Linked DNA regions of Homo sapiens. The protein of the gene in region 1 interacts with the protein of each later gene in a pairwise test. Each region holds a gene or a part of one and is shown on either strand. Other genes may lie near its edges. The genes, in order: TMEM109 and RNF170.

What was found.
Region 2: the proteins of TMEM109 (region 1) and RNF170 interact in binary tests that used the Homo sapiens proteins (3 or more experiments, as listed by UniProt).

The regions. Positions count from the first base shown.
Region 1 is NC_000011.10:60,912,704-60,917,071, reverse strand, and holds the start of TMEM109 (voltage-gated monoatomic cation channel TMEM109 precursor), read right to left. Parts: upstream 2,915-4,368; 5' UTR 2,804-2,914; intron 1-2,803. UniProt on the Homo sapiens protein: Functions as a voltage-gated monoatomic cation channel permeable to both potassium and calcium. Plays a role in the cellular response to DNA damage.
Region 2 is NC_000008.11:42,855,704-42,858,923, forward strand, and holds part of RNF170 (E3 ubiquitin-protein ligase RNF170), read right to left. Parts: intron 726-3,220; coding exon 456-725; 3' UTR 1-455. UniProt on the Homo sapiens protein: E3 ubiquitin-protein ligase that plays an essential role in stimulus-induced inositol 1,4,5-trisphosphate receptor type 1 (ITPR1) ubiquitination and degradation via the endoplasmic reticulum-associated degradation (ERAD) pathway.

The DNA.
Region 1 (4,368 bases):
GAAGGCCCTCAGGCTGGGAAAGCCTTCTACTGTCTTTGGCACAAATCAAGAACCAGATGGTTCCTGCCTGCCAGTGGTCGCAGATGAGGAAAGCACAGGTGAGTTCCTGAGCTATCTGGGTCATAACCATGTTGGGGACTTAAAAGAGCAGGGTTGCTATCTTGGGTTGGATCCTTTATCCAAGGACCTCCACCAGGAGGGATCAAATATCGTTTCCTCAGCCCTAGGAGGTCAGGGTGCCATAAGCTGCTCCTCCCACAGCAGCCTGCCTTGTTCTGTGCCAGCCCCAACTCTCCAGTGGCTGTCTGCCCCAGTTAAGGGGAGCTAGGAGACCTTGAAATAAGCCCTCTGCAGTGAGGCTGGCATCGTTATGCAGACTGATGTTCTGAAGTGCACCAGATACCAAACCTAACAGGATTGTGTAGTGTATCCTTTGGAGATAATGAGTGCAGAGATTGGCTGGCTGGTCTGCTTTTTCAAATTGTTTTCTTTAATAGGATTCCTTCTCATTTTTTTCCAGGTGAATCTCAGGCAGTATGGACTCACTGCTATTAGGCCTCCTCACTTTGGCCTAATCAAATAGTTTTACTAAAGGCATGGAAACAGTCTCAGCCTCTGAGAGGAGGAAGCATGTCTTAAAACTTCTTCACCTTCTGCAATGCCTGGCCTCAGACAAATAATAGGCACTCAATTAACAACTCATAATAATACAAATGTTATACATATCTATACATATACATATGTTATAATAATTTTTGTGTGGTGCTTTATAATTCACAGAGTGCTTATTGTTTCATCACTTCATTTAACTCTAACAACAATCTTTTAAGGTATTATTACCCTCTTCATCTTACTCAGAAAAGTATGGCTTAGAGAGGTTGAGTGACTTATCCAAGATCACACAGCAGAGCTGGGACTTGACTCCAGTACCCAGGATCTCAATCTTGCCTTTTTGCTTGTCCCATACCCGCATGCTGCCTTGATAGTGGACATAGTCCCTGCCCTCATGGAGCTGAAGTTCACCAACAAGCTCAAAGTGGAAGGACATCCAGACTCCTCCGAGGGAACACATACCAGGAGACCATCTGCCTTCTGGGCTTACAGGCCATGGTTTTGTACCAAGAGGTATGAGAGGACAGCAAAAGGTGGGAGACAAAACCTGCCACTTCTGTTCGGCAGCTGCAATATGGCTCAGGTGGGTCTGGAGAGCCCAGCCTGGCTGGGGAAACAGCTTTACTTATTGTGTTAGTGAGAAGGCGCCACTGCTTATGTTTAGCTGTGGTTTGCTACAAGGGTAGGATGGGGCATTTCGCGCCCCCCCCTCCCAATCAAGGCTCCTTCCTCCTCTTCTCTTTCCTTTTGTTAGTTTCATTTCATGCTATGAATCACCAGGTGGCAGGAGGGGCGGCAAAAAGTGCCCTCTACCGGCTCTGACTGTCCCGCCGCTGCTCATAGCTGCCCCTAAGGAGCGGCGGTTCTCAACTTTGGCTGCCCATCGGAACTGCCTGTGCAGCCTGTTAAACAAGGACGTCTGCCCCACCCAGGGCTACTCACTCAGACTCTTCCAGAGAGGGACTCAGCCCTTTGTTTTGCAAAGCTCCTCAGGAATTTCGGATGCATAGCCAGCAGCTCAGGGAAAAGTCTAAGCAAAGCTTCAAAAGTGCAGCAGTGTACAAAGGACCCCTGACTTCCGTCCCAGGCTCAAGTGTGCCACGGACTAGAAGCTACTACCTTACGCCTGTTACTTAACCTGCCTGAGTTGCAGTCTCCTCAAACGTAAAAGGGAGTGAACCCAGGTGAAGAGTTGCTGTAAGGAGTTAAGATATTTCTGCAGCAAGCGCTTTGTAAACTAAACATCTATAGAAATGTTGCAGCACACACATTACCACTGACTATATATCGTAGCATAATTTAGCAGTTTATCAACCTGCCTTCCCCAGTAGACCGAGCGACTCCCGGTTAGACTTGACATGTTGGAATCCCCAGCGCCTAGTAGGAAAGATGACTAATAAATGTTTATTAAATGAATATTAGCAACCTGCCAAGAAACCGTGAGGGTCGAACGAGAAAGCCATGGAGAGGTGAGGAGGGAGGTTATTTTAATAGTAGATCCAAATATACAGCAGCCACACGAGAAGCACAGCTGAGTCTAAAGGAAGGTCCTAAACAAGGCGAAGCCGCCACTGCAGAGAATGAAGTCAGCGCCCTGGCAGGTTGGGGGCAGCTCCCACTAAACCCCTGACAGCTGCTGCCCAGCAACTGTTTGGGGGCAGGGCGACGGCAAAGGGGCAGCTTCCCTGCCGCTCCGCGCCCTAACCGGGGCGCAGCCTCCCGGAGACAGGGTGTCAGTGGCATGTGCTATTTCGAACGGCGCGTCCCCTGCCAAGCGCTGAGGGGTAGCGTCGCTGGCAAGGAACGTGGCGCGACCCATGAGTTTGGGGCCCCCCGAAGGGCTCGAGCCGAGGCTGCAGGAGGCTGGGCCGTGGGTCGGGGTTCGGGGGCTCGGGCTTGGCGCTGGCCTGGTCCCCACGCCCGGGAGCCGCTCCACCTCTGCCGGACCTCGGAACCTCGCCGCAACCCTCTTCTCCCCGGAAACGTGCGCCTCCCGGGTTGCCTGGAAACGACGCCCCCGGTTGCATAGCAACGGGGATCCGGGTCCCCGGTTTGTTTCGCACGCTGGGCGCGCGGACCCCTCCCCACTCGGACTCTCCAGGCCTCGCGGCTCCGCCTGGTGCCGCCTGCAGCGGCTGCTGTCTCCCCTTCCCGTGCGCTGCCCCACATTCCGACCTCGGCCCGCTCTCACCTTTCTCAGGCCACTGCTATCCTTCACGTGCGACTTCGCTGAAACGCGCCACCAAACCCGCGCCTCAACTCGGGGCGCTGGTTTACCTTCTCCGCATGCGCAAGGCGGGATGAGCTCGGAGACTAGCCGGCCTTCCTCACAATCGAAGCCTGTGCCGGGAGCGCATGCGCCCCGCTTTATCTATTGCGTTTCTTTTTCCCCCCACAAGCATTCCCACCGAGAGAAGAATGGGATCGGAAGTTCCAGCAGGGAACGGAAGTCTCTGGCTGGAAAGGGGAAATAAGTGACTATATCTGGGCTGTAGAGTGGGTAAACTGGATCTTTGAAATCGGAGTGGAAGCTAATCCTCCTCTTGCCACCACTCGGCATTTTGGGTCATGTAGTTCTAGAGCTACAAATGTTCCCTGGGGCATTGTGGGCAATGTAGTTCTAACCGAGCCGCTAACGAGCACCTAGTCTTCCCATACACTTTTCGCGCTAAAAAGGCACAAAAGAGAAAGATATTAAAGGAGCAATTAAAAGCACACTGCTCTAGGAAAACGAATGCGCTCCCCCAGAGAGAAAATTCATACCTGAATACTGTAGACGGCTCCCAAATGTTAGCTCAGAATTTCAGAGAAAGAGAGGAACCAACTCTCACTCTCCTTTTTCTGCCACAAAGGCAGTGCATAGGGACAGGAGGCAGATAAATGCTAGGTAGAAAAGAGCGGGTCCCTGGTGAAACCCCACCCTCAAGCCAAAAAGCCTGAAACCATGGCCCAAAGTGAGAACTTCTATCCATGTTTTTCCAGTTGAATGTTGCCTTTTCCTAAGCCACCCATGGCTCTGCCCTGCCTCATCCTGTGCCTAGAAAGACCCCAGACTCATCTGGCAGAGAGGAGAAGCAGCTGGATGAGGGGACGACCATGGCTGGATGTCAGAGAGAAGCAGCTTGTCTTCAGAGGGACAGCTTAAGGCGTAACTTCTGAGACGAATCTGGCTGGAGATAGCTGGACTTCAAGGGAAGACTACATACCGGCCTGTCCCACCCCCCTCTTTTCAGCTCACCTTCCCTCTGAAATCCACTTTGATCAGCAATAAAATCCCAGGCATTTGTCCTTTAATTTGTTCGTGCAGCTTTATTTTTCTTGGACGCTGGACAAGAGCTCGGGAGCCACGAGTGCGGATACAAAAGCTGTCACGCTGGCCCTCTGCCCTTGCTGGTGGAGGGCAACCGCGGGCCCACGGAGCTGTTAACACTTAAGCTGTCCACGGACGACAGAGCCAAAAGAACACTGTAACATGCCCTCTGGGGCTTCAGGAGCCTCAGGCACTCTGCCTGGACACTGCCCCGGGGCCTGCACGGAGTTCGCTCCTGCCGGTGTCCAAAAGCGCACGCTCTGGCTCCTGCACCCACTCACCTGCACGCTCCCTCCTATGAGGGGTGGAACGCGGTGAATCTTGAGTGAGTGGAGTGTGATCCCACTGGTGCTGAAAAACGGCTGGCTTGTTCCAGCGCTTGTGCACTCCAGTTCCCGCCTTGTTCACTTGCGTACTCCCTCCCATGAGGAGTTGAGAGCAGCGGG
Region 2 (3,220 bases), on another chromosome or scaffold:
CCAATAGTATATAATATTTTATTGGAACAAAAATATTTAGATGAGTTTCACAGCTATATATTATCATATAGGTACCTGCTGAGAAGGATAAGATGGATAAACTGACATTTAACAATATTTTACTATACATCTAATTAATCTAAGTAATTCTGGGGAAAAGAAAAATATATAAAAGCATCCCTTTTTATATAATTCCATATTTTTTCCAGACAACATAGAATCAAGATACAACTGTAGATCATTATAATTCTAAACTTAATATTAGAACTTCAAACATGAAAATTCCAGTTATACCTAGGTATTTGTCAAATGATAATCAAATGTTTGTCTTATAGTGGTTTTATATTTGTGAGATAATACTCCATTGCTTCATTGCTTTATACTGCCATGGGTCCTTCTGTTTGATGTTCTACATTAGCTCAGATATCCTAGTAAACTCAGTTTTGTTTTCTTTTTCATCTAGTTAGCCTTTGGGTTATCACTTCTCGATACATAATAGAGATGTAGATAAGCAATAAAAAGATGACAAAGAAATCATCTAGAAAGCCTAGAATTCCAAACAAGGCTTCAGGTACAAAATCTAGAGGTGATATAAGATAGAAAAAAGCTCCCATTAAACAAAGTATTATCCTGATGCGAAACATCCAGAAAAGGCCCCCGACTGAAAACATTTCCCTGAATGCATGCCTCAGTAAAGTGGGTAGATCCATAATTCTCTCCATAATCTGGTAGAGGGAAAAACAAGTATTATGATTCAGCACCTAATGTGTCAGATTTCAAAATAATATAATTTTCTTACTATATGTAAACATTGTTAAGATGAATTAAGGAGTTACACATTAATTGAACATATTTTCTAATTATGTGTTGTATTTAAAAATAGCTCTTTGAATACTAGTTCTTACAGAATAGATCTTATTGCAGATAATTGAAAGGCAACTAAAGTGTCAACAAGCTTAAAATACGGGATATAGTAATGCAAAACTCAAGTAACATCTGATTTGAGTTAGTAAAATAAACCAAAGAACCTAGCGCGCAGGATTAGAGTCTGAGACTTGAGCTTAAGTCTCAGCTTTAAAGTCAGACAGATCTGGGTTTGAATTCAAAATCAATCACTTACTAGCCAGGTGATCTTAGGAACAGTTGCTTAACCTACTAGAGATAATTCAACAACTAACTGTGTATTTATGTGCAAGGACTGTTAAGAACGAAAAGGTTCCCTGGCAAGCGGACTAAAAATTCAAAAGAAAAAAATAACTAAAAGAGATACTGTGTATGAAAGACCTTTATAACTTGCCAGACAATATAGAAGTGATTATACATTAAAGACATAGGAACTTTGATGGCTTAAATAGTTTAAGAATAGCAGTGAAACTGATTCCTTCTGGTGAATCACTTCCTCTGGTCATTTCTCTGCTATGTTTAACAATCTGTGTAACAGTCATACACGCAAACTCTAGATAGGCGTTTTATGTAACAAGTGCCAAATAAGTTGAGAGGGAGATGGAGACAAAAACGCAAAGAACTGAGCAAGTGAGGAGAAAATAGTTTTTGAAACCCCCAGACTAAGAGAAAATCATCTTGTGACTCCTTTTGGAACAATGCTCACCGAAGTACAAGAATGGTTGTTTCATAATCACTTCCTATGTTCTGTGGAAGAACTAATATCTAAAGCAAAACAGCCTTACAGCTTTCACAAAGTTTATAGTAAATGACTTTAGATACTCTAACAAACAGCCAGCATGTCTTTTGAATACCCTTCTGTCCTTTTTCAGAGCTATTTTGTTCACTTGTAATACAGTATCATCATTTATACAAAATCTTTAATAATTAGACCAGAAATAATGAAATGGTTTAGTAAGAAATGTTTCTGCATAAACTTACTCCAACTTTGAAGGAGGCAGAATATTAAAGAGCTAAATGCCTTTTTTATATTATAATTTCATCACATACCAGGCTTTCTTACTCATTAAATATCTGACACAAAAAATAATAATTGAGTAATAGTATGCTTCACATTTTAAAAATAATGAAGGAAAAATTCTAAAGGCTGGATGCAGTGGCTCACACTGGTAATCCCAGCACTTTGGGAGGCCAAGGTGAGCAGATCGCTTGAAGCCAAGAGTTTTGAGATCAGCCTGGAAAGCAGGGTGAAACCCCGTCTCTACTAAAAATACAAAAATTAGCTGGGCATGGTGGCACACACCTGTAATCCCAGCTAGTCAGGTGGCTGAAATATGAGAACTGTTTGAACCCAGGAGACAGAGGTTGCAGTGAGCCGAGATCGCGCCATTGCATTCTGGCCTGGGCGACAGAGCGAGACTCTGTCTCAAAAAGAAAAGAAATGAAAAGAAAAATGTTAAATGACTTTATTAAAGTTTAGTGGTAGCTCTTAAATTTGAAACAGGTTGCATTTTTAAAGAACCATCCTACTGATGTCACCGGAGGATATGTAAAAAAAAAATTGCTGGGTCAAAATTGCAGAAGAGGCTCCCAAATAATTATGGAGGACAACATGATTGGATTAAGTTTTTTTTTTTCCTGCTCAATGAAAAATGGGTAAATCTACCCATTATCATCCATAACAGTTGAAATCTATGCCCTGAAATGTACACGACCTCACAGAACAAGGAACAATGGAGCATGAGCACATGTCTGTTTAACACTGAAGCATCTGAATAGCTTAATATATTCGGCTGGGAGCAGCAGTATCAATTCTTATCTTAACAGTAATTCATTTATTCAACACACATTAAGGCACCAAATTTGGCACTGTTGGAAACTCGGCAGTGGTAAATAAATAAAAATGGTCCTTACCCTTATGAAGCTTTTAGTTTACTGAGAGAAAGATAATGAACAAGAATTGAGTGCTGTCTATGATAAACGCCATGAAGGAAAGGTACAGAGGGCGCCACAGAGCAGGGAAAACTTCTCCAAGGAGGGTCTACTTAAGATAGTTGTCATTTAAAGACTGGGAAATCACCATAAGAGCAGAAGGACAAGCATTCCATGCAGAGGAAGTGTCAGGTGTGACAGCCTTAAGGTGGAAGGAGTTTGTGTGTGTGCTGAGAGCATAGAGCAGGGTGGCTGCAGGGTGGTGATTGAGGCGGTTAACAGAAATTTGGAGAGGGAGGGAGGACCAGATCATGTGGCGCCCTGTAAGCCACAGTAAGGAGTTGGAACATTCAAAGACATTGGGCCACAAGTGGTGGCTCATGCC